5 separate regions of the Homo sapiens genome follow, and regions 1, 2, 3 and 5 are each linked to region 4. The links come from fine-mapping of genetic effects on gene expression. A gene starts in region 4. Each other region holds a variant in brackets. All regions are shown on one strand. Distances are between the middles of the regions. Region 1 has its middle 8.0 kb from the start of NPM2. Region 2 overlaps PEBP4 (phosphatidylethanolamine binding protein 4). Region 3 holds the start of LGI3 (leucine rich repeat LGI family member 3). Region 4 holds the start of FHIP2B (FHF complex subunit HOOK interacting protein 2B). Region 5 overlaps REEP4 (receptor accessory protein 4).

Region 1 (6,326 bases), 73 kb before region 4:
AGGGGAAAAATAAACTCTGATCCTTATCTAACACCACACATAAAAGTTAACTTAAAATGTATGATAGATGTAAAAGGTAAAATATTTCTAGAAGAGAACTTAAAACAAAAACAACTTTCATTACTTTGAGTTAAGCCAAGATGTCTTAAGACACCAAAAGCATGAGCCATAAAAGAAAAAAAAGAACTTCAAATTTTCTGCACTTCAAAACACACTATTTTTAAAATGAAACTGCAAGCCACAGATCGGAGTGAAAAAAATATTCGAACATATATATTTGACACAAAACAGGTATCTAGTAAATATAAAAAAAAGAAGGGCCAGGTGCAGTGGCTCACACCTGTAATCCTAGCACTCTGGGAGGCCAGGATAGGAGGATCCCTTGAGCTCAGGAGCTCAAGATCAGCCTGAGCAATATAGTGAGACCTCATTTCCACAACAACAACAAAAAAGTTAATTAGCCAGGCATGGTGGTGCATTCCTGTAATTCCAGCTACTTGGGAGGCTGAAGTGGGAGGATCACTTGAGCCAGGGAGGCAGAGCCTGCAGTGAGCCATGATGTTACCACAGCACTGCAGCCTGGGCAACAGAGCAAGGCCTTGTCCAAAAAAAAAAAAAAAAAAGAAAAAAGAAACACATACACACACACAAAACTCACTAAGAATAACCCAACTTTAAAATGGACAAAATAGTTGAACGTGCATTTTGTAAAATAAGATTTACAAATGACCAGTAATCACGTTGAAAAGAAACTCAAAATCACTTGTCATCAAGAAAATGCAAATAAAAACTACAATGAAATGCCACTATACATCCACTAGAATGGCTAGAATTAAGAACACTGAATGCCAAGTGTAGGCAAAGATGTAGAATAATTAGAATTCTTATACATTGGCTGGGTGCGGTGGCTCACTCCTGTAATCCCAGCACTTTGGGAAGCTGAGGCGGGTGGATCACAAGGTCAAGAGATCGAGACCATCCTGGCCAACATGGTGAAACCCTGTCTGTACTAAAAATACAAAAATTAGGTCGGGCACAGTGGCTCACACCTGTAATCCCGGCACTTTGGGAGGCTGAGGCGGGTGCATCACGAGGTCAGGAGTTCAAGACCAGCCTGGACAAGATGGTGAAACCCGGTCTGTGCTAAAAATGCAAAAATTAGCTGGGCATAGTGGTGGGTGCCTGTAATCCCAGCTACTCAGGAGGCTGAGGCAGAGAAGTGCTTGAACCCGGGAGGTGGAAGTTGCAGTGAGGTGAGATTGCGCCACTGCATTCCAGCCTGGGCGACAGAGTGAGACTCCGTCTTGAAAAAAAAAAAGTACAAAAATTAGCTGGGCGTGGTGGCACACGCCTGTAGTCCCAGCTACTCGGGAGGTTGAGGCAGGAGAATCGCAAGAATTCTTATACATTATATGTAGAAATGTAAAATGGTACAGCATAGCCAGACATGGTGGCACATGCCTGTAGTTGCAGCTACACGGGAGGCTGAGGTGAGAGGATCACCTGAGCCTGGGGAGGTCAAGGCTACAGTGAACCATGATCATGCCACTGCACTCCAGCCTGGACAACAGAGTGAGAACCTGTCTCAAATATAAAAATAATAAATAAAAGGGTACAGCATGTCAAAGTAGTTTTGCAGTTTCATATAAAGCTTAACATATGCTTACCACATATCCAGCAATTCCACTCCTAGATGTTTACCCAAGAAAAGTTAAAACATACATCCAAAGGCTTGCTCTCAAATATTCATAGCCGTTTTATTCACAATTGTTTAAAACTGGAAAGTTCCCAAATGTTCACCAACAGGTCTATCTGACAGGGACTTACTGCAAGGAATTGGCTCATGTGATTATGAGCACCAACCAGGAGAGTATGAAATCTATAGGGCAGGCCATCAGGAAGAGCAGCTTGGAAGGGGGAGAGGAGCAAGGAGCTGAAGCTGCAGTCCCCAGGCAGGACTTCAGGAAAACCTCACTTCTGTTCCTGAAGTCTTTCAACTTATTGGGTGAGGCATACTCACATCATCAAGGGTAATTCCTTTAACTCAAAGTCAATGAATTGTAGATGTTAATCACATCTACAGATTACCTTGATAGCAACACATAGACTAATATTTGCTTGAATAACTGGGTCAATAGCCTAGTCATGTTGACACATAACACTAACGGGCAGATGACTGGATAGACCAATTGTGGGATACTCCTCAACCAAAACAAGAAACAAACTGCTGATACAAGCACCAGTATAAATAAATAAATCTCAAACACATTTTGCTTAGCAAAAAAAGGCCAACAAAAAGACCCTGTAGGATTCTACTTATATGAAGTTCTAGAACAGGCAATACTAATCTGTAATGTCAGAAAGCAGATTAGCATTTGCCTAATGCCAGTTAGGCATAGCAGGGGGTGGGGCAGGGGGCATTGACTGCAAAGGGAAACAAGGAAAGTAGGAAGGGACAATGGAAATTATATCTTGACTGGGGTGATGCTACATGGGTGTATACATTTGTCACAACTCATCAAACTATACAGTTAAAATGAATGCAGTTTTTTGGGTTTTTTTAGACAGAGTCTCACTCTGTCGCTGGAGTGCAGTGGTGTGACCACAGCTCACTGCAGCCTCAAACTCCCAAGCTCAAGTGCTCCTCCCACCTCAGCTCCCAAGTAGCTAGGACTACAGGAGCGTGTCATACCACCTGGCTAATCTTTTTTTCCTAATTTTTTTTTTTTTTTTAACGGAGTCTCACTCTATCACCCAGGCTGGTCTTGACCTCCTGACCTCAAGCCATCATCCTGTCTTGGCCTCCCAAATTACTGGGAATACAGGCGTGCGCCACTGTGCCCGTTCAAGTGCAGTTTTTTGTATATAAATTATTTTTCAATAAAGTTAATTTAAAAAGAAAAAGCTAATTCCTGCACAGCAGAAGCCCAGCTCATGCCAAAGAGATAGAGCCAGTTCCTCTGGCACCATTTTAGAAAAGACCACCCAGGCCAGAGCGGTGGCCCATGCCTGCAGTCCCAGCACTTTGGAAGGCCGAGGCAGGCAGATTGCTTGAGGCCAAGAATTTCAGACCAGCCTGGCCAACATGGCTCTACTAAAAATACAAAAACTTAGCTGGGTGTGGTGGTGCATGCCTGTAATCCCAGCTACTCAGGAGACTGAGGCACGAGAATCACTGGAACCTGGAAGGCAAAAGTTGCAGTGAGCCAAGATCACACCACAGCACTCCAGCCTGGGGGACAGAGTGAGACTCCAT[CAAAAA/C]AAAAAAAAAAAAAAAAAAAAAAAAGGAAAGAAGGGAGGGAGGGAGGAGAAAGAAAAAGAAAGAAAGATGGAAAAGACCTAGACATTTTTCCAAAAAGACAAACAGCCAACAGGTGTATGAGAGGATGCTTCAACATCACTAACCATCAGAGAAATGCAAATCAAATCACAGTAGATATCATCTACCACCTGTTAGGACAGCTATTATTTAAAAAAACAAAAAACAAAAAATGGGCCTGACGCAGTGGCTCATGCCTGTAATCCCAGCACTTTGGGAGGCCAAGGCGGCTGGATCACGAGGTCAGCAGATCGAGACCATGCTGGCTAACATGGTGAAACCCCGTCTCTACTAAAAATACAAAAAAAAAGTAGTCAGGCGTGGTGGCGGGTGCCTGTAGTCCCACCTACTTGGGAGGCTGAGGCAGGAGAATGGTGTGAACCCGGGAGGTGGAGGTTGCAGTGGGCTGAGATCACACCACTGCACTCCAGCCTGGGCAACAGTGAAAAACTCCGTCTTAAAAAAAAAAAAAAAAAAAAAATCGCCCACGCCTCTAATCCCAGCACGTTGAGGCCGAGGCAAGAGGATCACTTGAGCTCAGCAGTTCAAGAGCAACCTGGGCAACATAGTGAGACCCCAACTCTACAAAAAAAAAAATCAAGAAATGTACTGGGCATAGTGGTACACACCTATAGTCCCAGCTACTCAGAAAGTTGAGGCAGAAGGATCGCTTGAGCACAGGAGGTCAAGGTGGCAGTGAGTCGTGATCATGCCACCACACTCCAGCCTGGACTGCAGAGGGAGACCCTGCCTCAAAAAAACAAAACAATTGTTGAGGATGTGGAGAAACAGGAACATTTGTACATGCTTGGTGGGAATGAATGTAAAAGCTGCTAAGGAAAAGAGTATGGAGGTTCCTCAAAAAATTAAAAATAGAGGCCAGGCATAGTGGCTCATGCCTGTAATCCTGGTGCTTTGGGATGCCAAGATGGGAGGATTGCTTGAGGCTAGGAATTCAAGACCAGCTTGGACAACATAGCAAGACCCTGTCTCTCCAAAAAAAAAAAAATTAGCCAGACATGGTGGCGCACACCTGTAGTCCCAGCTACGTGGGAGGCTGAGGTGGGAGGATCGCTTCAGCCTAGAAGTTCAAGACAGCAGTGAGCCATGATCACACTGCACTCCAGCATGAGTGACAGAGTGAAACCTGTCAGCAAGAAAATAAAAATCGAATTACCTGTGTTCCAGGAATCCCACTCCTGACTATATATCCAAAGGAAATGAAATTAGAATCTCAAAGGGATATCTGCACTTTTGTGTTCATGACAGCATTATTCACAATAGCCAAAATATGAAAACAGCTTAAACACCCACTGATGGACGCAGGATATAGAAAATAGTACATACATACAATGGTATATTATTTAGCCTTGAAAAAGAAGGCAATTCAGTCCTCTAGGACAACCTGGCTGGACCTGGAGGGCATTATGTTTAATGAAATAAACCAGACACAGAAAGACAAATGTGCATGATCTCACTCATGTGGGATCTAAAATAGTCAAAATAACGAAAGCAAGGAGTATAGGAATGGTTGCCAGGCACTGGGAGGAGAGGAAAACGGGGAGGTGATGGTCAAAGTGTACAAAGTTTCAGTTATGCAAAATAAATCTGGAGTCCAGTATGCAACACAGTGTCTAGAACTAACAATACTTAGTAACTACAGTAGAATACTTACTATCTGCTAAAAGAATAGATCTTACAGTAAGTGTTCTTAATGAAAAAACACAGGCCAGGCATGGTGGCTCACATCTGTAATCCCAGCACTTTGGGAGGCTGAGGCAGGTGGATCACCCGAGGTCAGGAGTTCAAGACCAGCCTGACCAACATGGTGAAACCTCGTCTCTACTAAAAATAAAAAAATTAGCTGGGCTTGGTGGTGGGTGCCTGTAGTCCCAGCTACTCGGGAGGCTGAGACAGGAGAATGGCTTGAACCTGGGAAGCAGAGGTTGCAGTGAGCTGAGATCATGCCACTGCACTCCAGCCTGGGCAACAGAGCGAAACTCCATCTCAAAAAAATAAATAAATAAATAAATAATAATAATAATAAAGAGGGCAAGAGAAAACTTTGGGAGCTGATGGATATGTTCATGGCCATGATGGTGGTGAGGGTTTCATAGGCGTATATTTATCCCCAAACTCAACAAGATGTATACCTTAAATCTGTACAGCCTTTTACACATCAATCATACCTCATTAAGGTGGTTTTTTAAAAAAAAAAATCAATGAACTTTATATATGGATGAGAAATTTCCTAGGTGGAATTGTAGGGTAAGAATACCAGGAGAGACAAAAACCATATAATCATCTCAATAAATGCAGAAAAAGCATTTGATAAAAGTCTACATCCCTTCATGATAAAAATTCTCAACAAGTTATGCATACACGTAATATGCCTTAACATAATAAAGGCCATATATGACAAACCCACAGAAGGCTAACATACTGAATGGGAGAAAGCTGAAAGCCTTTCCTGTAAGAACTGGAGCAAGACAAGGATGCCCACCTTCACCAGTCGTATTCAACACAGTTCTGTAAGTACTAGCCAGAACAACCAGGTAAGAGAGAAATAAAAGGCTTCTAAACTGGAAAAGAAGGGGCCGGGTGCAATGGCTCACGCTTGTAATCCCAGCACTTTGGGAGCCCAAGGTGGGCAGATCACTTGAGGTCAGGAGTTCAAGACTGGTCTGGCCAACATGGTGAAACTGCATCTCTATTAAAAATACAAATATTAGCTAGGCATGGTGGCTGGCACCTGTAATCCCAGCCATTCAGGAGGTTGAATAAGGAGATTCGCTTGAGCCCAGAAGGCAAAAGTTACAGTGAGCCAAGATCACGCCCCTGCACTCCAGCCTGGGCATCAGAGTAAGACTCTGTCTCAAAACAAAATAAAACAATAGGCCGGGCACGGTGGCTCACACCTGTAATCCCAGCACTTTGGGAGGCCGAGGTGGGCAGATCACGAGGTCAGGAGATCGAGACCATCCTGGCTAACACGGTGAAACCCCGT
Region 2 (6,326 bases), 820 kb after region 4:
TCTGGTGGGGGGAGCTGAGGGTAGGGGAGGCTGTGCCTGTGTGGGGGCAGGGGTACATGGGAATTCTCTGCACCATCTGTTCAATTTTGCTGTGAACCTAAGACTGCTCTAAAACATAAAGTCTATTAAAAATAAATAAATAATTTTCCCTGATCTGTTGTTTCCTCGCCTGTAAAACAGAGACACTAATACCTGCTCTGCCTGCCATGACACCCACATGGCCATGATTGGGGTCTAGTGGACTCTGCGAGTACAAGACCAACATGTCAGGGGTGCGCTGGTCCCTGGAAGAATGAGAGATGCCCTCAAAGTCGGGATCCTATGACAACTGCCCCTGCCAGCCCAGCCCCCAGCAGCTGCTGCAGCCCCCTCCTCTGGCAGTTCTCACCTCCCCACCAGGCAGTGGGGGTTTTGGACTGCAGTGGGCACCTCCTCCCAGCAGCAGCTCCCCACAGCAGAGCTGGGAGCTCCACCCACCTCCTTCTCTCCACCCCTCACCCACAAGCCGGCAAGTTTTAACAAATAACACATGATACTGCTCTTCTAAAAATCTGCCAAACCTTTCTCAAAACTCCCCTTTAGGCCACAACCTTCTTTCACCAGTGAGAGCAGGCAACAAGTCCCTGTAGCATTCAAAATGCTCTTCCTTCTAAATGGCTCCCACAAAGGCCGGCAGCTATTTTAAAATCCAAGAAGCCTTTGCTGACACTCCCAACATACCGCTGTGAACAGATCCCAAACATGTGAAGAGCCCTACACTGACGCTTGTTCAATGCCTTTAAAACAAACAAACAAAAAAACAACCCAGGATGCAAATCCATTGAGTGCTCCTTTCAGGTCCCATGTGCCCCCTTGGTAGATCAGCGCACACAGTTTTTTTCAAAGAAACAGTATTTGATCTGAGAAACATCTGGAACCTGTTTCCCCAGCACTTGGCTGGGAGCTTTCAGTGGATGTCAGCGGCCCAATCGCTGAGCGTGCACCCTGCCTGCCTGAGCTGCCGGCAAGATCTATCGGACTGGGGGTGGCGGATTGGGTAAGGGGGGGCGCTGTTTGATTAAAAGCTGCTGGGGGCAGGTTCAGGTCTGGCAGGAAGTTCTGGAATGACAGAGAAGGCCACGAGGATAAGGAGCCCTGGGAGTGAAGATTAAGACTGGGAATCCTCCTAATGGAGCCACCCTGAGTAAGACAGTCGCCGGAGCACGTGGCCGTTCTGTTAAGGTTTCCCCTCAGCCATTAAGTGTTTAACAGACAAGTGATAACAACAACAATGGACATTCTCACTATTGCAAGATGCCCATCACAGGCAGGGCAGGGGTGCGTTCTGTGTGTATCCCTCACTACCGGAACAGTACCTGGCAGAGGGGCAGAGAGTGGAGCTCCATCCGGATCTGCTCCAGTGAATACATGAATGACTGAATGACACCCCCTCTCCACTGTCAACATTACAGGCCTGTTTTCAGGAACCGGGGGATTCCGGAGGCAAAATTACATAGGTGAAAGGTAGTTGACTGCAAGCCAGGGAAGCTGCCATCCGGGGCTGGTTCTCCCACTTCCCAGGTTTGGCAAGTGTGACCCTGGGCAGCGCCCTCATCTGTCATCAAGGGGATAATCCCCGCTCTATCCATCGCCCCATGTTGCTAGGAGGATCTGTCCTGTGAAGTCCTGCATAGGAAGTGTCTTTGCAACCTGAACATCTAACTGCAAAGGTTAGAAATGCTGACAATCCTCACTCCCCTTTCACCCAGTCCAGTTGCACCCAGAGGAGCCCCGGATGACCTGGCTGGGGACCTGGGCTAGAGTGGGACACAGCTGAGTGATGTTAGCACTTTGACTACTTGCACTGAAGGAGCCAGGGACAAAGGATAAAATGACCTGATTCGTCCTTGCCTGGGTGCTGCGCGCCCTCCTCACCTGCCTTCCCACACCTGGCTCCGCCTGTTAGCACCTGAGCCCTTCATTTACAAGCTCAGCGGCCTCCTGTCCCCTCTGCCTCTGGGCCTCAAACACACACAGTTCTCCTGGAACCTTGGAAAGTCCAACTCTTCTTTTGTGTCTTCTGTCCTTCAGACTACAAATCCATCTCTTTCTATTGTAGTGACAACTGATCCCATCCATGAAACTCCAGTTAGGTGCTCGGCACCAAATACAGTGGCATCTCATGAATTCTTCCCTAAACCCTCACCTGATGCACTGGTGATCTCCCCAGGGTGGCCCCTTACCCTGTCCTGACTTTACCTTCTGCTCCCAGCCCGCAGTCCTGGAACGATCCAGATCCAGTGGCTCTTCCCCAGCCTGGCCCCATGCAGCCTCTCCCAGCAGTGGAGCCTGGTGACTCCTGCTCCCCATTCCTGCCTCTTCCCTGCACCTCCCTCCTCTGTGCACCTTTACTTCTTCTGCAATGTCCGTGACATCATCATTCCCCACGCTCTGCCCCAAAGTCCTTCCACCCTGCAATTTCATGACATTGCCTCTTCCCCCTGCAGTAGGGGCTTGGCTGGCTGAGCTCCAGCTCCCAGGGCCAGCATAGGGCAGCCCCCTCCAGCCCCTGCGGCCACACCTGCACCCCTCCTGCCCACTATCCCCTTCCTCCTCCTCTTCCCTCAGAAGCATCTCCGGCACCTCCCACCCCTGACTTCCAGTCAGTGGCCAGGTCCCATTGGCTCCAAAGGAGCTGGACACCCTTTGAAATATCCTCCTAACTCCCACCATTCACACCGTTTATCACCTTGGAATGAGCATTTCCAGTCGACCCCTCAACCCCTCCTTCTGCTGTATTTTGACACTGCCCTTTTATTGGCTCCTTCCTGCCAGAATTTACTTATTTATTTAGAGTTGGGGTCTTGCTCTGTTGCCCAGGCTGAA[G/C]TGCAGTGGCACAATCATAGCTCCTTAGCCTATTGCAGCCTTGAACTCCTGGGTTCAAGTGATTTTCCCACCTTAGCCTCCCCAGTACCTAGGACTACAGGTGTGAACTACCAGGCCTGGCTACTTTTTTTTTTTTTTTTTTTTGAGACAGAGTCTTGCTCTGTTGCCCAGGCTGGAGTATAGTGGCGCGATCTAGGCTCACTGCAACCTCTGCCTCCTGGGTTCAAGTGATTCTCCTATCTCAGCCTCCCAAGTACCTGGGATTACAGGCATGTGCCACCACACCCAGCTAAGTTTTGTATTTTTAGTAGAAATGGGGTTTCACCATGTTTGCCAGGCTGATCTCCTGACTTCAAGTGATCTGCCCACCTCAGCCTCCCAAAGTGCTGGGATTACAGGCATCAACCACCATAAGGCCTGGTTAACTTCATTTTTTTGTAGAGATGGGGTCTCTAACTCCTGACCTCAAGCAAATCCTCCTGTCTTGGGCTCCCAAAGTGCTGGGATTAGAGATGTGACCCACTTCGTAAATATTACTGAACACATACTGTGCCCAGCCCCTGCCAGCACTTAAACATTCGCAGGCATCTCTTCTCCCCTGGCAAAGCGGTGGTGTGAGTAGCCTACTCCATGGGATCCACTCCTCATTCACTCCTTGGTCCCCTCACACGGGTAACCAGTGGCTTGCTGGGGTAAGGCAGTGCGTGCGTTTCCTGTGGCCTCACCCAACCTCTCTGGCTGGCTGCTGTTGAGCATAGCAGAGCCTACCCGCAGGTAAACCTGTCCTCCTCTCAGAGTCCACGCCTGCTGGAACACTGAGGATGCAGACCCAGGTGCCCAGCCCTGCCTTCTCTTCTGGAGTCAGATGGCAGACCTGCCTCTCGGGCAGCTACCTCTGGATGCTACAGCCTCCTCAAACTCTATGGGTTTCTGTGCAGAAGTCGGTGCCAATGGCTGCCATCCCTGTAAAAAACCCAGTGCTTCTCTGTGTCCCCTTCTTGGTGAAGGCACCGTTATTAGAGTTAACATATACCCCAGCTTGCCAGCGCCATGCCCAATGACACACATTGTCCTGGCATAACTATTAACAGCATCCCCCTTTAGTCTCAAAAGGGTCCTGTCTTAGATGAGAAATTATATACTCAACCTCATTGTTACCCACTCGCCTGCTCATCACAGAAACCCGAGGGTCATCTGGACTCTCCCTCTCCCCAATATCCCCACAGCCCCCAAGCTCTATGGGTTCCACGTCCTTAACACCTTTTAAGCCCAGCCCATGGTCCATGCCATCACCTAGGTTGCAGGGTGGGCACCTTGCCTTCAATCTTACCTTTCTTCCATTCTTCCACCTGCTGCTGGAGTGACCTTCCCAAATTGCAAATCTGATCACATTTACCAGCCTAAAAATCAAATGGTGACTCTCCTCCCCCAGCCACCAGCCAAACTTTAAGATAAACTCTAAACTCCACACCAGGGCCATGAAGTTCTTGGCTCCTAACCATGGATGTGCCCCTGCCCTACCCGCCCCGACCCCCGACCCAACCACAAGCCTCATCCCTCACCTCACCATCCTGGCTCCCATCTGTCCCTTGCTGGGTCCCGGCTCACTGACACCCTGTGTCCCCATGCTTGCCCGCTACCTGTCTATCTCCCCAGCTATACTGCAAGCTCCGTGATAGTGTCTTTCGTCTCTGAATCAATAGCACTGACATGGTGCCTGATGCAATGTGTTCAGTAATATTTACGAAGTGAGTCACCGCCCATCCCCAACACCAAATAGTCCATGGCGGCTGCAGTCCCCTGAGCCAGTGGGCCTGCACTTGACCGCCTCCACATGTAGGAGAGGAGACTCCACATGTAGTCTACTGGAAGACGTCTCTGCTCCATCCATTAGGGTCTGTTCTTCTAGAATTGCTGTGGGTGTTGGGAGCCCCGTGTCCTTCCTCGGCTAATCATTTTGTGACTGCAGCAGCCTGTATTTTTCTGCTCTGTGTATACAGAGAAGGGTTGGTAGGGGCGGTGGACCTGTGAGTTCCGAGCTCTCTTATAGAGAGGAGAGTTCCAGGCCTCTAGAAAATTTGGGTTGAAACTTGTGTCTCCACCATGGGCCAATGAGGGCGAGAAGGTGCTCCCTGGGAGGCTGCGGCTAGAGGCCTGGGCTGGCATGAAATGCACTGACCCAGGTGGATAGGGCACTCAGGGCCACCTGCTTTGTGAGGAGAAGAAATAGTGCCTGGGCCAAGCCTGATTGGAAACTCCAGGGAGAGCAGGACAGACCGAGGCAGCCTTTTGTTCCCTCCCTGTAATGCAATGCACATTCCCCACTTAAAGGCAATTTCTGCACTTCAAAAGGATTCCAGCTGGCGAAATTTAAGGTGGAGAATAAGCCCCCAGTCAAGAAGCTTCTCAGGGGCCTTTCAGTTTTCCTTGGCTTGAGAACGGGATGCATTTTTAAATGTTTGCCTCTTCATGTTTGTCAGAGCGCCAGGGGAGAAACGCTTCCTCTTACTTCCACACCTCTCTCGCTCAGCCATAGCTGGCACGGGAGCCAGCCACGTTTTCCTGTGTTACTTTGCCTTCTCATGAACCTGCCTGACTTCCTCTCTTTCTCTGCCTGCTTCCCCACCCACCCCCCAGCTCACACCCCACCCCTAGGGGGAGGAGAGAGTCCTGCTGCCCTGGGTTCACTAGGTTTAGCAGCTTTCCTTCAACAGATGCTGAAAGGGCCGACAGTTTGGCTGACACAGCTCATAGCTCACACTCCAGGAGATGCTCTCCCACATGTCATTCATTCATTCATTCATTCATGCATTCATGCATTCATGCATTCACCTGTTCACTCTCTCACCTAGTCACCCAGTCAGCCAGCATGGCATCTGAGGTGCTGGTGGGGCCCACGGGTGACTCAAAGAAAGACAACACATAGTCTTTCTCTCCTAACTTACAAAGTGCTTGAAGCTTTGAGAGACAGGAATGAGCAACTACAGCACAAGACACAGGGAAGTCAAAACCCAGTTTAGAGGGTAGGAACATTTTAAAAGCACAGAGAAAGAAAAGATCAGCCAGGGATGTAGGTGGAGCCCAGAGGGAGGCAGTCAGGGAAGGCTTCCTAGAGGAGGAAGCATTGTGACGGGAGCAGGGTCCAAAGACGCCAAGGATGGGGAAGTGGCCAATGCCAGAATATGGAGGTGGGAAGCTCTATGGTGGGCACAGAGGCACTGCTGCACCCCTCTTTCCAGGGCTTTGGAGTTTGCTGGGGGCGGGGGAGGGGGGGGTGTTCCCAGGCATGTCCAATGGCAGTCACTGCTTTGGTGGCATTGCTTCAGTCACCTTGGAAGCAATGCACCATCCCCACATAGCAGTCACCAACTCGTGCCCTTCTCCATCAGGCCCAGAAGAAATACCTTCATGCTCTTCTCTGTCCTAAACACTCAGGCTCCCCGCACCCTTTTCTTGAGGGA
Region 3 (6,326 bases), 69 kb after region 4:
AGATGGGGCATGGGGGTGGGGGCTGGCATCCTGGTCCCCAAGGACCTCACAACCTCTCTGGTCCCACAGACAAGGGGGAGCCCCTGAGGCTGGCTGTTGTGAGTGACAGGCTGGCCGAGCTGAGTGCCAAGTGGCTGGTCAGTGGCGGGCATGTGCCCCATGCCAGGGTGCTGGGAGGGCATAGCTCATTCTCATCCTGCTCTGGCCGCCACTCTCCTGCCCTTGGTGTGACATCACAGGCAGGGGCCCACATGCTCGTGTAAGCAACCCCCCCAAGTCTGGAGCACAGCACACAGTAGGTCTCACTGTCGCTCGTGGTGATGATGATTCATTCTTGGTGGTGAACTCCTGCTTTCCCCACCCATGGCCGCTGAGCCTGCAAAACTGCAGAACTCCCTGCCCGACTGGTGCCTGGAATCTCCAGCCCTGAGGACCCCTGCAGTCCCCCTGGTCCCCGCACTCTGAAGAGGGGGAGCGGGGGTTCTCCTGTCCTCTCCCAGAGCTGTCCTCGGCCTCCTCTCCCTCCCCAACCCCCAAGGCCAGGGCTGGACACTCACAGGGAGATGACCTCCGAGGGCAGGTTCCTGGGCACCGCCTTTGAGTCCACGCAGAAGGCGGTGTCCCTGGTGCAAGAGCAGCTGGGCGGGCAGGGGGGCGTCTTGGGGGGCCTCTTAGCGCTGACTTGCAGCATGAGGCAGAAGCCGAGCGCGGAGAGCGCCAGCAGCCCCGGCCCCGGGCCCCCCCTGGCCCGCAGCCCCGCCATGCTGCCCGCGATCTCTCCCTGGGGCCGGCGGCCGCGGCCCCCGCCCCACCGCTCCCGCGGCTGGGCCACCCCGCGCGGGCTGGCACCTCCCTGCCACCGGCAGCTGCTACCGCAGCCAGGGGCCCGCCTGCGGACTCCTCCTGCCCTCGGGCGCCGGCTGCGGTCCCCTCCCCTGCTCGCTCCCGCGATCCGGCTCGGGAGAGAAGAGCGGAGCGCGGAGCTGGAGCCGCAGCCGGGGCTGACCGCGCCGGGTGGCTGCGGACTGCGGCGCGGGCGGCGGGGGCGCGCGCGGGGCGGCGCGGGGCCTGGGAGTCACGGAAGGGGAGGCGTGGCCGCTGTGTGCTCTACCGGGCGGTCTCTGGGGCCATCCGCGTGTGGGGCTGCGCGTGAGTGCATGCGTGTGAGCTTGTGCTTGTGCCTCTGCTGGGCACGACTGTGCGCGCCGGTGCTCACCTGTCTCTGCACGGGCACATGCACTCACTGCCTTGTGGAGGCGCTTCGGCGTTAGGGATCCCTGTGCTTCTGTCTACCTGGGTTTCTTTGCATGGGGGGACACATCCCCTAGGCAGCATCATGGGCATGTCGTGAGTGACAGACGCATATCTAAGTTAGCATGCAAGATTAGAAGCACAAGGGCGTCCTGGAGGAGTCTGAAGTGCGCTTCTAACCGGATTCACATGTTTTTCCACGCGCCGCTGAACAGAATGTACCTTTGTGTCAGCATGAGCTGAAAAGGGAAACGCAGCCTCTGGAGCTGGAGTGGGACTGTGTGGAATTCTGGAACATTTCTCACGCTCAACCACAGCCTGTTAAAGCTGGGAAGCGCTTTGGATATTTTTCAGTCCAGCCCTTTGTCTAACAAATGAGGAAACTGAGGCCCCCTAAGCTTGCTATCGCAAGTGCTCTGTACTTTCCCTACTTAATCCTCTCAATCGTTTGAGGCAGGTGATAGTAATTCCCTTTTACAGACAAGAAAAGTGAGGCCTGTCGCACCAGAAGAAAAAGGTATCAGCAGGGATTTCCGCCCACTCTGCCCAGCTTCAAGGTTCACGGTCGTCCTTCCATGCACGGCTCTTCCAAGTGTAGCCCTGGGAGCCCGGGGGTCCTTGAGAACCTTTCAGGAAGTCTCTGAGGTAAAAACAATTTTCCTAATATTGTTAAGACATGATTTGCCCTTTTCACTTCTATGAAGCTCCAAATTTAAAAGATTTCCAAAACTGTAAAGAAATGACACTTTCTCTCTAATTTTATTTTGCTTTGTAAAATAATTTTGCTTTGTAAAATCGTTTTTCCATTAAAAATGTGATTTATGTCATAACCTATATTGGGTTTATTACTGATATTTTAAATTCACATGTAAATAAAAATGTAATTTCTCAGTAAATATCAACAGACATATCCCACATAAACAAAAGCTCTTGGGGGTCCTCAATACTTTTTGAGAGTGTTAAGGGGTCCTGAAAACAAAAAGCTTGAAGACTGCTGCTCTCTACCACGTTAGCTCCCCTGTGGCGGAGGATGACTGTCCTAAGAGCTCATAGGCACGGGGCAAGGGGAGCCTGGCTGTCAGCTGCCTGGGCTTCTAGTCTTGTGCTTTTTGCACACCAGTCCAGGGAACGAAGACCACT[G/A]GCTTTAAGATGCTTCCCCAGCTGTCCCCAGACTCTGCCAGCAGGGGATTCTCTGGTCTGAGCTTAAGTTGTGTTCTCCCAGCCAGGGATGCCCCTGCCCTTTGATGTCTCCTTGCTGCCACACATTTAGCCGCCCTCCCCATGCCAGCTTGGGGGGAGGGAAGCAGTGAGGGTAGGGAGGTGGCTGGGGCAGCTGGGCAACTGTCCCCACCCGTCCCTGGCACGGCTCTGCCCAGTACACAAAGAGCAAAGTGAATCTTGTCCCCACCCCTGCAGCTGAGGGGCTGGAGGAGGAAACGGGGAGGCCCACACAGAAGGGGTGGCCACCGTGGGGCTGTCCATCACTCAGGGCTCTCAGAGGGAGTCAACCCAGAAACAGACAAAGAGGGTGAGTCTGGGCTGTGTTCTTAGCTAGTGAGAGGTCCCCTAGAGGATGAAGTAGATGATGCTAATGAGGATGACTGGATGTCACACCCATGATGCTATTAGGTCCTCATAATAGCATAGTGAGGTGGACAGCTAGTACCTGACCCATCTCACAGATGAACATACTAATGCCTAACAAAGCAGAACGACTCACGCTGGGTCCCAGAGCTGGCCAGTGGAAGCACTGAGACCTCCACATACTGAAGGCATGGACTATTGACCGCTGTTGGTATTGGTCTCATCATTGACTATCATTAAGTGTTGGCTGTTTGCATGCTTCCTGCCCAGTGGCAGGTTCAAAGAAGCCCGCAGGAAGCGTGCTCCTTTCTTTCCCAGGGCCCGCAATTGGGCTGGAAGATAGAGCAACAAAAAGCGCCCATGTAACTCATGGGAACATTCATGTGTGCTGAATGGCAGGTGAAGGTGCCACAGAGAGGCTGAGGATTTCAGAGGGCACCATGAACTGGAGTGAGGTCGCAGAGCAGGTGCCATTGGCTCTTGGCCTGTTTGGGTGGGTGGCATTCAGAGAGGTGGAAGGTCAGATGCACTGTTCACGCCTGTAATCTCAGCACTTTGGAAGGCCAAGGTAGGAGGATCACACGAGGCCAGGAGATCAACGCTGCAGTGAGCTATGAAGCTGTGATTGCACCACTGCACTGCAGCTTGGGTAACAGAGTGAGACCCTGTCTCTAAATAATTAAATAAATAAAATAAAAATAAAACCGGAGAAGTGGAGAGGGATTGGAGGTGGGCTTTCACAGAGGGAGAAACGGCTTAAGTACAGGCCAAAAAGTGAGAAGGCTGCAGACAGGGCTGGTAGGGGGAGGGGGAAATTTGGCACACCCAGCTAAAGGTCCTTCTGTGTCTCCTTCTCCAAGGAACCCAAGACCTTCACTTGGTTGGTGTGAGCACTCCAGGAGGCAGGCACCCTCCCTCAGCCCTCAAGCAAGCAAAAATGGGTTTAAAAAAAGAAGGAGAAGAAGCAGCAGCAGCAGCCGCCACAGAGCTTGTGACAGCTACAGCCTAAGGGCAACAGGCAGGGGAGACCAAGGACCAGAAAGAGCAGAGGCTTTTTCAAAGAAAGAGATCCCTCTCCCAGCACCCAGCGATGGCGGCAAACCCCACCCACAGTGCCTGCTAAGAACAAGTCCCACGTGAGAACAACATGGCCCCCCGAGATGCCCACAGGGACCCCGAGATGCCTGCAGTGCTTGGCTCTCCCGCTGGCCAGCTGCCCACCTGGCTCAGGCCCAGTACTCGTGAGTCAGCCGATCAATCCCAATGTTGCCAGGATGATGGGGGCGGGAGTAAGGGCCCTGGGGGAGGGCAGGGGTGGGCACTGCAGGCGAGCTGTCTCCCACATCTGGCACCTGCACACAGCTGAGGCCGAGCTGAGAGGATGCTTCTGTGGGCTCCCCCTCCTCCCGGCACCCCTCCCCTCCTTTCACTGTCCTAGGACACTCTCTGGCTGCTGGAGTCTTAGGCAAATATTTAAAGGGGCAGCAAGGGGGTGAGGAGGGTGGTGGGAGCAAACACTTCCCTCCCTTTCTTCCTCCCTGCGCTTCTCAGGGGCTCTCAGTTCAGATGCCATGCTGTTATGCAACCTTGGGGCTGAAGGCCCTCCAGATGGAGAGGGGGACAGGGGAACCTGCCAGCTCATGACCGAAGGGCAGGGCCCAGGTGGGAGGGGGCTGGGGCAGGGGACAGGAACTGGGGTGGCATGTTAAAGGACAGGAGGCTGGTTGGGCATGGTGGCTCACACCTGTAATCCTAGCACTTTAGGAGGCCGAGATCACTTGAGCCCAGGAGTTCGAGACCAGCCTGGGCAACATGGTGAAAACTCATCTCTATAAAACAAGCAAAAATTAGCTGGGCACAATGGCATGCACTGGTAGTCCCAGCTACTTGGGATGCTGAGGTGTGAGGATCACCGGAGTCCAGGAGGTCAACGCTGCAGTGAGCAGTGATCTCGCTACTGCATGCCAGCCTGGGTGATAAAGTGAGACCCTGTCTCACAACAAAACAAAACAAAACAAAACAAAAGGATAGGAGGTTAAGGGAGCGAGCCCAGGCCTGGACTCTGCCACAGTCACCTGAGTTTAGAGGTGAAGGGACTTTAGAGACCACCTGGCCCAAGGAGTGAAAGGGAACCTGAGAGAAAGGGTGAGCCAGCCCAAAGTCATTGGCAGATTTGACCTCGTAAATACATAGAGATGGCTTTGGGAAGGCACTAGGAAAGACAGAGAAAAGAGAAGGAGACAGTCCTCAAAGCTGATCGTATTTGGGTGAGTATTATTCTCAGGGCAAATTTAGGATCAGAGGATGCAGAAAGGGGAGTCTAGAGGGGTAGAGTGTAGACCACAGGGTGAGTGAGCTGATTCGAGGATGGGGAGACTGGGAGCCCACCAGTGACCAGAGCCAGCCCTGTTCAGGGCTGTCCGGGCAGAAGAAAGCAGTGTCAGACCTGGAATCTGCCATCAGCACAGCCTGCAATTGACAGACAAGCCCAGAGCAAAGAAGGAAGCACTGCACATGAGTAAGAGCTTGCCACCAGTGGGGACAGAGTTTCCAGAATTAGGAAAATAATCACTGGGGGCAAGTTTGAGGTTGGTACCAGATATGTGGGAGGAGGCAAGGTAAGGGAAAGAGTACTTGAAGTTGGAACTGGTCCTTGCAGGGAAATGCACATTTATGAAACCCCGAAAACTGATGTCAAAGCACCTCCTGCCTTGGGCAGAGTCCTCTCAGAGTCTACAGGTGCTGCCTCCAGAACCCTCTTCCTGGAGCGCATCCCTATGTATCTAGAAATTCTGCTGGGAAATATGATGGTCAGACCCTTGGCCACCTGAAAGGTTCAGGGTGGTAGAAGAAAAAGGAAAGCCACAGGGCAGCAGGGGCAGGTGCCAGCAAGGAAGGCAGGCACGCCAGGAAGACACCCATGGTGAGAAGTGCAGATGGCCCGAGGGCAAGTTTGCTCAACTCACCCAGGTTTGCTCTTGCTGGGGCCAAGAGGACTCATGTGCCAGGGCCAAGGGCCCTTGGGGGCTCTCACAGGGGGCTTATCTGGGCTTCGGTTCTGGAGGGCCAGGAACAAACAGGCTTCAAAGCCAAGGGCTTGGCTGGCACACAGGGGGCTTGGTCCTTCACCTCTGTCCCCTCTCCCTACGGACACATATAAGACCCTGGTCACACCTGGGAGAGGAGGAGAGGAGAGCATAGCACCTGCAGCAAGATGGATGTGGGCAGCAAAGAGGTCCTGATGGAGAGCCCGCCGGTGAGTGTGGTTGCGTGTGTGTATGTATGTGTGCGCGCGCACATGTGTGTGATGGGCCCTGCCTCCTCTATCCTCCCTGGCCTGTTTCCTTATCCAGATCCATTCACTCAACTAACCTAGGACTGTGATAAGTCAGGATGGGGACACCAAGACCACTAAGCCAGGGACCCTTGGGGAGCTGTTTGTGGGCCAAGAGCCACTATAGGGGTCCGTAGAAAGGGCTGTCCGTAGACAG
Region 4 (6,326 bases):
CTGGGTTCCCACTTTGGCGGCACTTGAGGAGCCCTTCAGCCCACCGCTGCACTTTGGGAGCCCCTTTCTGGGCTGGCCAAGGCCGGAGCCGGCTCCCTCAGCTTGTAGGGAGGTGTGGAGGGAAAGGCACGAACGGGAACCGGGGCTGCGCGCGGCGATTGCGGGCCAGCTGGAGTTCCGGGTGGGCTTGGGCTTGGCGGGCCCCGCACTCGGAGCAGCCGGCCGGCCCTGCAGGCCCCGGGCAATGAGGGGCTTAGCACCCGGGCCAGCAGCTGCGGAGGGTGTACTGGGTCCCCCAGCAGTGCCAGCCCACCGGCGCTGCGCTCGATTTCTCACCGGGCCTTAGCTGCCTTCCCGCGGGGCAGCGCTCGGGACCTGAAGCCCGCCCATACCGGAGCCTCCCACCCGCTCCGTGGGCTCCTGTGCGGCCGGAGCCTCCCCGACGAGCGCCGCCCCCTGCTCCAGGGCGCCCAGTCCCATCGACCACCCAAGGGCTGAGGAGTGCGGGCGCACGGCGCGGGAGCACGGCGCGGGACTGGCAGGCAGCTCCACCTGCAGCCCCGGTGCGGGATCCACTCGGTGAAGCCAGCTGGGCTCCTGAGTCTGGTGGGGACGTGGAGAACCTTTATGTCTAGCCCAGGGATTGTAAATACACCAATGGGCACTCTGTATCTAGCTCAAGGTTTGTAAACACACCAATCAGCACCGTGTGTCTAGCTCAGGGTTTGTGAGTGCACCAATCGACACTCTGTGTCTAGCTGCTCTGGTGGGGCCTTGGAGAACCTTTGTGTCAACACTCTGCATCTAGTTAATCTGATGGGGACGTGGAGAACCTTTGTGTCTAGCTCAGGGATTGTAAACGCACCAATCAGCGCCCTGTCAAAACAGACCACTGGGCTCTACCAATCAGCAGGATGAGGGTGGGGCCAGATAAGAGAATAAAAGCAGGCTGCCCAAGGTAGCAGTGGCAACTCGCTTGGGTTCCTTTCCACACTGTGGAAGTTTTTTTCTTTCACTTTTTGCAATAAGTTGCTGCTGTTCGTTCTTTGGGTTTCCCACTGCTTTTGTGAGCTGTAACACTGACGGCAAAGGTGTGCAGCTTCACTCCTGAAGTCAGCGAGACCACGAACCCAACAGGCGGAACTAAAAACTCCAGACGCGCCGCCTTAAGAGCTGTAGCACTCACCGCGAGGGTCTGCAGCTTCACCCCTAAGCCAGCGAGACCATCGAACCCACTAGAAGGAAGAAAGTCCAAACACATCCGAACATCAGAGCAAACTCCAGACGTGCCACCTTAAGAGCTGTAACACTCCCTGCAAGGGTCTACAGCTTCATTCTTGAAGTCAGTGAGACCAATGAACCTACCAATTCCGGACACAATATGATGTCAGTGATAAGCAGAGACACTGGTTTTTGTTTCTTAGAGAGACACTATTTTGCTGTCACCCAGTCTGGACTGCAGGGGCACGATCATAGCTCATTGCAGCCTCGAACTCCTGGGTTCAAGTGATCCTCCTCCCACCTCAGTCTCCCGAGCAGCTTGGACTACAGGCACATACCACCACACCTGGTTATTTTGTATTTTTATTTTTTGTCAAGACAGGATCTTCATATGTTGCCCAGGCTGGTCAACAGCCTTGGCCTCCTAAAGTGCTAGGATTTCAGGCTTGAGCCACCACACTCAGCTGCAGACTTTTTTTTTTTTTTTTTTTTTTTTGAGACGGTCTCACTCTGTTGCCCGGGCTGGAGTGCACTGGCACGATCTTGGCTCACTGCAACCTCTGCCTCTCGGGTTCAAGTGATTCTCCCACCTTAGCCTCCACATACCACCACGCTTGGCTAATTTTTTTGTATTTTTAGTAGAGACGGGTTTTCACCATGTTGGCCAGGCTGGTCTCAAACTCCTGGCCTCAAGTGATCAAACCGCCTTGGCCTCCCAAAGTGCTGGGATTACAGGTGTGAGCCACCGCCCACAGCCCATAAACATTTTCTGATAGCCCTGTCAAAAAAGTAAAAAGCAACACGTGAAGTTAATTTTAACAATATACGTTATTTAACCCAACACACCTAATAGTCATTTCAATATGTAATCAATATAAGCCATGGTTGTTGCAGTTTCACACTTTCCTTTCTTACTGTATCTTCCAAATCGGGGTGTGCTTGGCACGGCACATCTTGGTTGGGACCAGCACATTTCAGGAGCTCATCAGCCCATGTGCCTGGGGCTGACTGAGACTTCAATTCAGGAGGAATTGTAATTTCTCTTCGAAAACACCTCCCTTAGCTCCCGCCTTAATCCCAGCTACTCAGGAGGCCCTGGCGGGAGGGTCGCTTGAGGCCAGGAGCTGGAGATCATCCTAGGCAGCACAGTGAGACCTCCCCTCCCAGTAAAAAAACAAAAAAAAAAAACAATTGGCCAGGCGTGGTGGCGCGCGCCTGTGGACCCAGCTACTCTGGAGGCCGGGGTTGGAGGATCGCATGAGTCCAGGAGTTGGAGGCTGCAATGAGCAGAGATCGCGCCACTACACTCCAGCCTGGGCGACCAAGCGAGACCCTGTCTCGGAAGAAAGGAAAGAAAAAAAAAAAAAAAAAAAACACCTCCCAGCCAACTCTCAGGGCCCACCGCTGGCGGTTCCCAGCCCGACTGGGCGCCCCCAGCCGGGGTTAGCCAGCGCCACGCAGCCGGGCCGGGAAGGGGCGGAGCGGCCGGGCCCCGCCCCCCTCGTCGCGCCGGGGCCGCCGGGGCCACGGGGCTGCCTCCTCCGCCTAGAGCGCTGCCGCCGCCGCTTTCGCCCGGGAGCCGGGGGCCGGGCGCCATCATGCTGAGCCGGCTCGGGGCGCTGCTGCAGGAAGCCGTGGGGGCGGTGAGGCCGGCAGGGCCGGGCCGGGCCGCCGGGAGTCGCGGGCCTAGGCCGGGCTGGGCGGGCGCGGAGCCGGGCGCGGCCCGCAGGAGGGCGGGCGGGCGCGGGCCCCCTCGGGCAGGGACCCCCGGGCCGCGGCGCCCCTTCCTCTGCCTCCCCGGCCGCGCCCCGCTTCCCCTCGCTCTTCCCAGTCCCGCTCCCAGACTCCTCCCGACCGCCCCACCTCCCCGGCCTGCTCCCGCGTCGCTTCCTGTCTGTGCGTCCTGGCCCCGGAGTCTCTCCCAATTCCCGAACTCGCCTCCGCCGGGACGCTCCCTGTCACCGCTTGGGGTGTTTCCTGCCCCCCGGGGCCCTAGGCCGCCTCCCCCCAGTCCCGGTGGGCCTGCCTCCTTCCTCCGCTCCACCCCACCGCCTCGCCTGGGCTTGAAAAAATCGCCGTCCCTTCCCCTCGGTCTGATCTCCCAGACAACTCCAGGACCTTGTTGGGGTGCAGGACGCCCTTCCCGTCACCCCGGGACGTGGGAAGTGCAGGCCCTGCCGGTCCAAGTCCCCACGAAGGGTAAAGACCCGGGGCAGGCTGGTGGGCCCCCAGCCGGGGAAATCGCCTTCTATTGGGTGCAGATGTTTCCAGCGTGGCTGTGACCCCTCACAAGCCAAATTGAGTTAGGGACATGCCGCCCGTGGTGGGGCCTGGGTGGCCCTGTGCGGGGAGGAGAGTCCATTGATGTTTCACGTGCCGTCAGTTTGTGTTTTTGCCATTTTTTGTTGGGGCTGCAGGCTGGCAGGCAGCCTACTACTAGGGTTCGTTCAGCAAGATGTAGCGCTGTGTAGGAAGGGTGGGGGTATTCCCGGTAGGGTGGGGGGGGTGCCCGCTGTTGAAAGTAACTCTGCCAAGAAGCTGTCTGTAAAGTCAGCAATACTTCTGCCTCCTAGTATAAATCTTCCCCCAATTGATGAGTTGAGTATCAGATTTTCTCAGGAGAGAAAGTCTTGGGTTTCACCCTCCTTCCTCCCCACCACCTCCTCCCCAACCCTCATGGGAGCTCCTGTTGAAAGAAGTTTGCCTTAGGCAAAGTTGGGAAGAAAGTCAGAAACTATGACTTCCTCCACCTTCCCAGCCCTGCTGTTGACCCAGGGCCAGGGCCTTGGGGCATCCAGGTAGAGAGGGTTCCAAAATGATTTTTCTTCCCCTTCCCCCATCCCCAGTCAAAACAGCTGTGATCTTCAAAAGTGATCTGATAAACCAATTCATACCTCTGGGGAACACTCCATTTACAGGAGGTGAGACAGGCCAGACAGTTCCTCAGTCCTGAGGAGTGAATTTCTTTCTTTTTCTTTTCTTTTTATTATTTATTTATTTATTTCTGAGCCCAGGCTAGACTACAGTGGTGCGATCTCCGCTCATTGCAGCCTCCACCTCCTGGGCTCAAGCAATCCTCCCACCTCAGCCTCCTGAGTAGCTGGGACTACAGGCATGCGGCACCACGCCAGGCTAATTTTTGTATTTTTTGTAGAGACAGGGTTTCAACATGTTGCCCAGGCTGGTCTTGAGCTCCTGGCCTCAAGCGATCCTTAGCCTCCCAAAGTGGTGGGATTACAGGCATGAGCCACCGCACCCGGCTAGGAGTCAAATTCTAAGGCTTCCAATGACAGAAGTACAGGCATCAGTGGCAGGAGATTTTGGCAGTGGAGGGAGATCTTTTTAGGCAGGTGATCTTCCGGGCCCTTTAGTATTGACCATATAGGCTATGTCCGGGCGGTGTGGTTGGCCCTACAGGGAGACGGGAATTCCTCTTTTGTGCTCTACCCTCAGGTCGCCAGTCTAGGTCTTTCCCAAGCCTTGGTCACCAAGTGTGATCCTAGTAAGTCAACTGATTACTCATTGAGTAGGAAGACTGCTCCTTCCCGCCCTCTTCTGATCTAACAGATTAGGAATCATTACAGCTTTTTTTTTTTTTTTTTTTTTTTTTTTTTAAGATGGAGTCTTCCACTGTCACCCAGGCTGGAGTGCAGTGGGGCGATCTCAGCTGACTGCAACCTCCACCTCAAGTGGTTCTCCTGCCTCAGCCTCCTGAGTAGCTGGGACTACAGGGCTGCGCCACCACGCCCAGCTAATATTTGTAATTTTAGTAGAGATGAGGTTTCGCCATGTTGGCCAGGCTGGTCTCGAACTCCTGACCTTAAGTGATCCACCTGCCTTGGCCTCCCAAAGTGCTAGGATTACAGGTGTGAGCCACCACCATGTCTGGCCACTAATAATATCGTTAAAGAGAAATTGTTGGGTCTAGTGCCTTTGGTTTGGAGTTATCATAGCTGGTGGTGGAGTTAGGTAAAGATCACACACCTGTGTCACCAGCTCTCTAATGGCCTGTGCTGGTTAACCTGCCTCTCCCGTGTCTCCTGCCGTACTGGAGTATTCTTTTTGGTTAAAGCCCAGCTCAAGGTTTTCAAAGACTATAAGCCAATTTTGAGGCTAAAGGAGACCCCATCACAGAAATTATGAGATAATTGTAGGGCTGGTGAAGGGCCAGAGGACTTTCTAAAACAAGGAACTAGGGAAAGAATCTCTCCAGGAGTTTCCTGAGATATCTGGTAAATATTCATGGGTATTCACTATGTGCTGAGCCCATTGAGGGCAGGCTAGCTGTAAAACACAGAACCCTGGCTCTCAGGGAGCTCATCATCTAGCAGAAGAGATGATTGCTCAGCACAGCAGGCACTGTCACATAGAATGTAGTGAGATGCGGTCACTGCACAGGGATGGAATATTTGGAATAACTGTGGGTGGTGCTACTTTTGAGAAGGGTTGCAGCCCCTACCAACTAGCTTTGCAAGAAGACAAGATGCCCTGCGGACTGAGGGGAGTTTCCAGTTCTGTGAATGTCATCCCTCCCTCCCCATGTTGCAGTGGCCTTCTAAGCATATTCTTCCTGCCTTTACCTCCTCTCCCAAGGCCAACTGCCAGATGAGTCTTCCGAAAACACTGCTCAGAAGGTGCCAATGGCCGGGTGTGGTGGCTCATGCCTGTAATCCCAGCACTTTGGGAGGCCCAGGTGGGCGGACCACTTGAGGTCAGGAGTTTGAGACCAGCCTGGCCAACATGGTGAAACCCCGTCTCTACTAAAAATACAAAAATCAGCCAGGCGTGGTGGCACATGTCTGTAATCCCAGCAACTTGGGAGGCAGGAGAATCACTTGAACCCAGGAAGCGGAGGTTACAGTGAGCTGAGATGGTGCCACTGCACTCTAGCCTCAGTGACGGTGAGACTCTTTTTTTTTTTTTTTGAGACTCTGTCTCAGAAGAAAAAAAAAAAGTTGTCATTGACCTGCTCCCTGCTGCCTGCAAAAAATGACTGAGACTTCTTGGCTTGGCATTAGAGACTCCGAAGTCTCGCCAGCCCACCCCTTCCCCAGGCACACTTTGCAGAGTTCCTTCTGCAGGGACTGTCTTCCTTCTCTTGTTGA
Region 5 (6,326 bases), 48 kb after region 4:
CAGTTGACAACCAGTGCCCTGAGCCTCCGGGTCCCATGTGTGCTCACCCAGAAATGCCCCAGAATTTGGACTTCTCCTGGCTCCTTCCCCTCTGTCCCCAGCATGTGTTGGAATTCATACAACTGCAGTCAGCCGTTCACCAAACCCGTGTTCTAGGGGCCTTGGCATGTTCAAGGCTTGGCGGTGGGCCCCAGGCGATGCAGGGCACAAAGGCAGAAATCACGAGGCCATCCCACCCGCCCGGCCTCCCCCACCCAGAACATATGGTCACTTCACGCATTTGTTCTTTCACCAGCAAAACTCCTCCAGGCTTCTTAGGTATTGGCCCTGTGCTGGGCGCTGGGGGTGTTGGGCTTGTTCATGAATGATTACAAGATGCTTCTAGTCCCACCCTGGGGAAGTCAGGGGAACTTCATGGAGGAGATCAGAGAATGAGATCAGGACTTCACCACCCAGTCGCGAAGTTACAAAAGTATTTCACTTCGGTTAGACCATTTGTTCCAGGCTGAGCTACAACAGTGTGTAAAATACGTCTGTCCTTTATGAAGTCACAACACAGTGGGGGAGAAAAGGTCACATGCTCAAGGCAACAACAGAAGTCTGTGCAAGAACAGAGGTGGTGTGGTCCAGACAGCAAACCACTCCGAGGTGAGGGAGTGCTTGCGGAGGGCTTCCAGTGGAGGTGATGTCTCAGTGGGGTTCAAAGGGCAAGTAGAAATGGGACAGAGTTGGATGGTGGAGGAAGAGCATGTCAGAGGCCAGCACGCATAGGGCCACACGGAGCCATGAGACAGTCTGATGAGATGGTGAGGACAAGGCATCGCAAGCTCTGCCAAGGGGCCTGGGTGGCCGTGTGGCCCCCTCCAAGCACCCATCCTAGGAGGGAGGGCAAGTGAAGCCCCCACCCCAGTGAAATCTCCCTCACCACCCCACGACTTCAGGCCTCTCCCCAACTCTTGTTTTCTTTTACTCCGTTTTGTTTTGCCATTCATCATATGCCCTTCTGGGTTTGTTATTTTTTTTTTTTTTCTGGAGATGGAGTCTTGCTATGTCACCCAGGCTAGAGTGCAGTGGTGCAATCTCGGCTCACTGCAACATCTGCCTCCCGGGCTCAAGCGATTCTTGTGCCTCAGCCTCCCAAGTAGCTTGGATTACAGGCACGCGCCACCATGCCCGGCTAATTTTTGTTTTTTTTAGTAGAGACAGGTTTTCACCATGTTGGCCAGCTGGTCTCGAACTCCTGACCTCAGGTGATCCATCCGCCTCAGCCTCCCAAAGTGCTGGGATTACAAGGGTGAGCCACTGTGCCCGGCGCCCCTCTGGTTTTGTTCTCTTGGTTTGGGTACATGGATCCTGCCAGCCCGCCTCTATCAACGCAACTCCCAGGCAGAGGTGCATCAGGAGTCAGGGTCCCCGACTCACAAGCAGCACAATGGTACACAAGTTGTTGTGGCTCTCCAAGCCTCGGTTTTTCATCTGTAAAATGGGTATAGCCCTGTGGGTGCAGTGGCTCATGCCTGTAATCCCAGCACTTTCAGAGTTCAAGGCAGATGGATCACTTGAGCCCCAGAATTCAAGAACAGCTTGGGCAACATAGTGAGACCCCGTCTTTACCAAAAAAATATGGTAATTAGCCAGGTGTGATGGAGAGTGCCCGCAGTCCAAGCTACTCAGGAGGCTGAGGTGGGAGGATCCCTTAAGTCCGGGAGTTCGAGGCTGCAGTGTACTATGATCATTCCACTGTATTCTAGCATGGGTGATTCAGTGAGAACCTGTTTTAAAAAATGGATATAGTCCCTATTTGACAGGCTTGTTGGGAGGATTCAAGGAAATCATCTCTGTAAAATGCCCAGCACAAGGTCAGGCACACAACAAATATTCCATACATGTTAGTCTCCATGTCCTTGCCTCCCAGGCAGGAATCATCTCCTTCACTCTGGTACTGCTTAGTGATTAAGTGCACAGACTCTGGAGCCAGACTGCCTGATTCCAAGCCCTTCTGCTATGTACTAGCTATGTGACCTTGGGCAAATCACTTGCCCTCTCTGTGCCTGTTTTCCTGTTTGGAAAATGGAGACTGTAAGACTAGTGTGTACCCACCCCCCAAAGATCGTTATGAGAATTAAATTAATATATGCCAGGGGCTTAGAGCAGCGTCTGCGTGGGCAGCCACACTCTGGGCGCCAGCCGTTACTACTGCCTGCATCCCTGCAGTGTCTGGCAACATGTCTGGTACCTGCTCGAGGCTCAATAAAGATTCATTTTTGAATGAATTAATGAAGCGATAAGACAACCCCACGATGCAAAGGCAGGCCATGTTGGACGCCAGTGAGCCCCTATACGTGAGAAGCTAAATCACCGCAGCAGATTAAGAGCCTCCCCCAAATAAAACCTGGATAATCCCCACACCAAGAGTTAATCCACACTCTCTGGGGCCACTCCAGGTTACCACCCCATTTCCCCTCTTCTCATCCCACACTCTCACCCACCTCTTTGCTTAATCAATCAAAAGCAGGGAGGAGGAGCAGGTGCAGCAGTGGCAGAGGGGCGCACCCCGGGCATCATGGTGAGACCAGCACCGGGGCAGTAGAGGGCAGAGCTGGGTACCCCGGTTGCCCCAGGGATCGGAGGAGTTGGAGTGGAGCCAGCCAGGCAAACAGCCTTGGTCTCAGGAGAGCAGAGACTCCTTGGATGGGGCAGGCCAAGGACCAGTGACCACAAGCAGCAGGGAGGGCCACTGAGTTCCGCCAGGCCCAGCAGGGCGAGGCTCTGGCCAGTCTCCCAACCCCACCCTCCTTGACCTGGAAGCCGGGGGCAGCCCAGATCCCAGACACTGCTGCCCTCTCGTGGCCACTCCTCAGAGGTGCAATGGTGCCCCTGCGGGTACCTGACTGTTTACAGAACTTAATGTCCCCAGAGCTGCCCCAGGGGGCTCCTTCTTCCAGGCTCCTGGAGGAGATACTCCTCCCCAGGTCTCCTCTGCCTAGCTTCGACCTCCCTATGGGACTAACGTGCTGCCCCAAGCCCCTCCTGCCTGTGCTCCCACTGGTTTCTCTATAGCTGCACCTTCCTGCCAAGGCCTAACTGAAGTTTCGGGTTCTGACCAGTCCTCTGGACTC[G/A]TCCCCACTTTCCCATCAGTGCTCTCAAAACTCCCCAAAAGCTCCTTCGTGAAACCATGTGCTGCATCACAACTCTCTGTCAATGGTTCTGTCTCCCCCAGAGGACTGGGCTCCTTCAGCCTTAGACCTAGGCTAGGACTGGGCTGTCCCATTTCAAGGGTGTGAGGCGAGCAACGGGAGTAAGAATCAGGAGAAACAGAGCCCCTTTATGTATTTATTTATCAAAACACTCGCAAACCTGACCTCACTCACCAACACACACACACACAACCAGGACACATGTGCCAGGCCTTATGAAAGGCTATCAAGTACTTTGAAGGACAGGAAGGAATGAACACACCCAGGTGGACGTTTGGTTTCATTTGCAGGGGTTCAGGGAGGGTTGCAGGGGTTCAGGGAGGGCTCTTGTCCCACAACCGGGGAAGGGAGAGGGCAGAGCAAGGCAATAAATAGAACCCTGGGCCCAGCCTGCTTTGGTACATTGTGGGTGCATCCCTGCATGTGGCCTTGGCAGCATCTGCTCCCGGCCCTTAACCATCAGCAGGAGTCAGGAGGGTGGGGCCCAGGCAGCTGGTGCAGGCAGGCCAGATGTGCAGCCCAAGGTCCCTCCAAATAGCCCTGGAGCCCTGCAGGGCACGAGGTAAGAAGGGGGCAGATGCAGCAGACCCTAGCTGTCCACGTCTGAGGGCACAGTCTTTTTCCTCGTCCGAACCTTCAGGGAGCGCGAGGTGCCCTGGGGAAAGGGGAGGCACAGCATGAGGGTGTGGGGAGCACCAGCCAGCAGAGCCCTCCTCCCTCCTGTCGTCCTCCCACACTGACCTCCCGCACCGGTGGCTTCCTCTTGACCACACGCAGGCTCTGGCTGCGGATTAGGGGCTTCTCTCGGGGCCGGGCTGGCGCCCGGGGGACTGCCTCAGTATCTGACCAACACTCATCCTCGGTGTCGCTGTCCTGCAGGCCCCCGGCCCGGTACCCTGTGTGGAGGAGGAGGTGAAGCTGAAAGCCTGCGACCAGGCCAGCCCTTCCTCGAGCCTTGGGGGAAGCCATGGTGTGAGTGAAGGAAGCCATCCCTCCTGGCATGGCTCTGGGCCCCTCTGCCCGCTCACCAATGGGTGGCCTCCGGTGGGACACCTGGTCCTCCAGGTAGAGGGGGTCATGGTAGGCAGGGGCAGGTGCGTCAGAGATGGAGCGCAGGTCCTGCATGGAGAAGCTCCGCAGCCTGCCGGCCAGCGCCCCCTGACTCTGCGAGGGGGAAGAGGCTTCAGCGGGGAGGCTGCCCAGGGATATTGGCCAACCAGCTAATCACCGGAGCTGAGACGCAGAAGTGAAAACTGCTCAGCAAGCTTCTGGCCCCGCGCCAATGTGGCACCAACAGGAAACCAAAGTCAGAGAGCAGGAGCCGCTGCTTACGCTCAGTGCCAGAGCCAGGAAGGAAGGTCTGACTCCAGCTCCACGCTTCTGCCAATACCCCCCCGTCACCTTCTCACCCCTGCTCCCCGGCTGCCATCTCTGGGCTCCCTGGCAGAGGAGCTGAATGAGCCCAAAGGGCCTTAGGGGTGGGATGGGGGCTGCTGGAGGGCTGGGGGCCCAGAGCACCTTGGTGGCAGCCTGCACAGCAGCGGAGGCGGCAATGTTGAGGCCCCGCTTCCCGAAGCTGAGCACGGTCTCGTAGCTGCGCTCCTTGGCCTGCACGATGTACGCGTCGATCTCCTGTGGACCCAATGGGGAGGAGAGCTCAGGTGGACAGCCAGAGTCCCTCTTCCTCTGCAGATTCTGAGAAGCCACTGGTTGTGGCGCCACCCAGCCCAGCCCAGCCCCACCTGGTGCCCAGAGCCACAAATCCGGGCCACAAACACAGACCAAGAGCAGGGCTGCCACCCGCTCACACCTCCATGAGTGGCCATGCTCCAGCTGCCGCCACCACTACCCCCAAACCAATTTCCATCCTCAAAGGTCATTCATGTGTACCCCCACCTGATTATCCCAGAAGATGAGGTAGGCTGGGCCCTGTCAAGGTCCTGCCCCTCAATAGCAGCAGGACTGGGATAGAACCCCGGTGTCCCCAGCATCCTAAATCCCAGGTCCAGGGCTCTTTCCCTCATACCCACCCCTAAGCCTCCCTTCCCGCTTCCCCCTGGGGTACCTTCTCATGGCGGGACAGGGACGGGTGGACAAACTTGCGGTAAAGCAGGCTGGCGCCCTTGGTGTAGGGTGAGAGCAGCCACAGCACGAAGGCCATCTTGATCTCATAGTAGAAAGGGAACCTGTCACAGCACAAGGGGCAGGGTGAGCCAAGGAGCAGGGCTGGGGGGGCCACCCCTGACCCATGGCTTGCGGACCCTGCGTCCATACCAGGAGATAAAAATGTCTGTAACGATCTCTGCTGCCATGAAGAGTGCAAAAACAATCCAGTACATCATCCACCGCACCTGTGGGGTGAGCGCCCAGAGGTCAGCATGGGGCCTGCAGCACCAACTCCCAACCCAGGCCAGCCCAGCCCAGAGATTCCAGGGAGCCTGTCCGGCTGCATAGCTGCTTTCCCCCACACATGGCTGGACAGGAGCTCTGAGAAACTGCTGCTCATTCCTATGCCCGCCTCCAACAAGCTTCACCCACCAGATCTTCCACAGGCACCCCGATGGCCTGCCCTCTATCTACACCCTCTTGAACAGGGCCCATTCTCTCTCCCTCCCCACTCCACTCAGGATGTGCCACACAGCCTTGCCCCTGGAGGAGGGAGAGGCCAACTGAGACCCTCCCCACCTCACCAAGTCCTATTAAACACACCCAAACCCCCACGCTCACATATTCACGAATGTTCTTGGTCTTCACAGCCTTATAGGAAGCATAAGCTGGACACAGCATCCCAAACACCAGCCTGGAAGAGCAGCCATGGGGAGTGTGAGGGGCACCATGCCCCACTCCCACCTTGCCAAGTGGCCATTTCCCCCCACTGGGGTGCAAGGTGGCAGTACCCGCCCTGTTTTTCTCGCTTGGCTTGTACAACCCGTGCCTGAGTCAGAGCCCTGGAGGCCACCTCCCCACCCTGCTGTTTACAAACATCCCAAGCCTGCCCAGGCCTGCACCGGTGGCCCATGGGTGCATGATGGAGTGAGAGGACAGCCACTCCACGAAGTGGGTGAGAACACCAGACTGTCCCCTCCCATGGGCATGCAATCAGGCCCAGGGTCACCAGACCTGACACTG

The links. PIP is the estimated chance that this variant, and not a neighbour inherited with it, causes the effect.
Region 1: its variant is fine-mapped to the expression of FHIP2B in whole blood (INTERVAL, PIP above 0.99).
Region 2: its variant is fine-mapped to the expression of FHIP2B in vagina (GTEx, PIP above 0.99).
Region 3: its variant is fine-mapped to the expression of FHIP2B in whole blood (TOPMed, PIP above 0.99).
Region 5: its variant is fine-mapped to the expression of FHIP2B in whole blood (TOPMed, PIP 0.90).

Annotation. Positions count from the first base shown.
Region 1 is chr8:22,012,936-22,019,261 of GRCh38, forward strand. No RefSeq gene overlaps it. Among named protein-coding and RNA genes, the nearest start is that of NPM2, 8.0 kb to the right of the region's middle. The variant CAAAAA/C (reference allele first, on the strand shown) is at 3,257.
Region 2 is chr8:22,910,997-22,917,322 of GRCh38, forward strand. All of the region lies in intron 3 of PEBP4 (phosphatidylethanolamine binding protein 4), which reads right to left. Among named protein-coding and RNA genes, the nearest start is that of PEBP4, 14 kb to the right of the region's middle. RefSeq lists enhancers at 628-1,399, 1,400-2,171. The variant G/C (reference allele first, on the strand shown) is at 2,866.
Region 3 is chr8:22,155,780-22,162,105 of GRCh38, forward strand. It overlaps LGI3 (leucine rich repeat LGI family member 3), which reads right to left and starts at 1,027. Exons shown (of 8, transcript NM_139278.4): 1 at 558-1,027. The coding sequence starts at 763. SFTPC (surfactant protein C) reads left to right here and starts at 6,019. Exons shown (of 6, transcript NM_001317778.2): 1 at 6,019-6,091. The coding sequence starts at 6,050. RefSeq lists an enhancer at 1,060-1,204 and a cis regulatory region at 1,132. The variant G/A (reference allele first, on the strand shown) is at 2,392.
Region 4 is chr8:22,086,435-22,092,760 of GRCh38, forward strand. FHIP2B (FHF complex subunit HOOK interacting protein 2B) reads left to right here and starts at 2,716. Exons shown (of 17, transcript NM_022749.7): 1 at 2,716-2,864. The coding sequence starts at 2,820. RefSeq lists enhancers at 1-356, 3,456-3,595 and silencers at 2,606-2,825, 2,886-2,945, 3,136-3,235.
Region 5 is chr8:22,134,701-22,141,026 of GRCh38, forward strand. It overlaps REEP4 (receptor accessory protein 4), which reads right to left. Exons shown (of 8, transcript NM_025232.4): 2 at 5,925-5,997; 3 at 5,472-5,548; 4 at 5,263-5,383; 5 at 4,716-4,829; 6 at 4,226-4,361; 7 at 3,939-4,093; 8 at 3,320-3,852. The coding sequence ends at 3,787. Among named protein-coding and RNA genes, the nearest start is that of REEP4, 4.0 kb to the right of the region's middle. RefSeq lists enhancers at 4,980-5,588, 5,589-6,196. The variant G/A (reference allele first, on the strand shown) is at 3,120.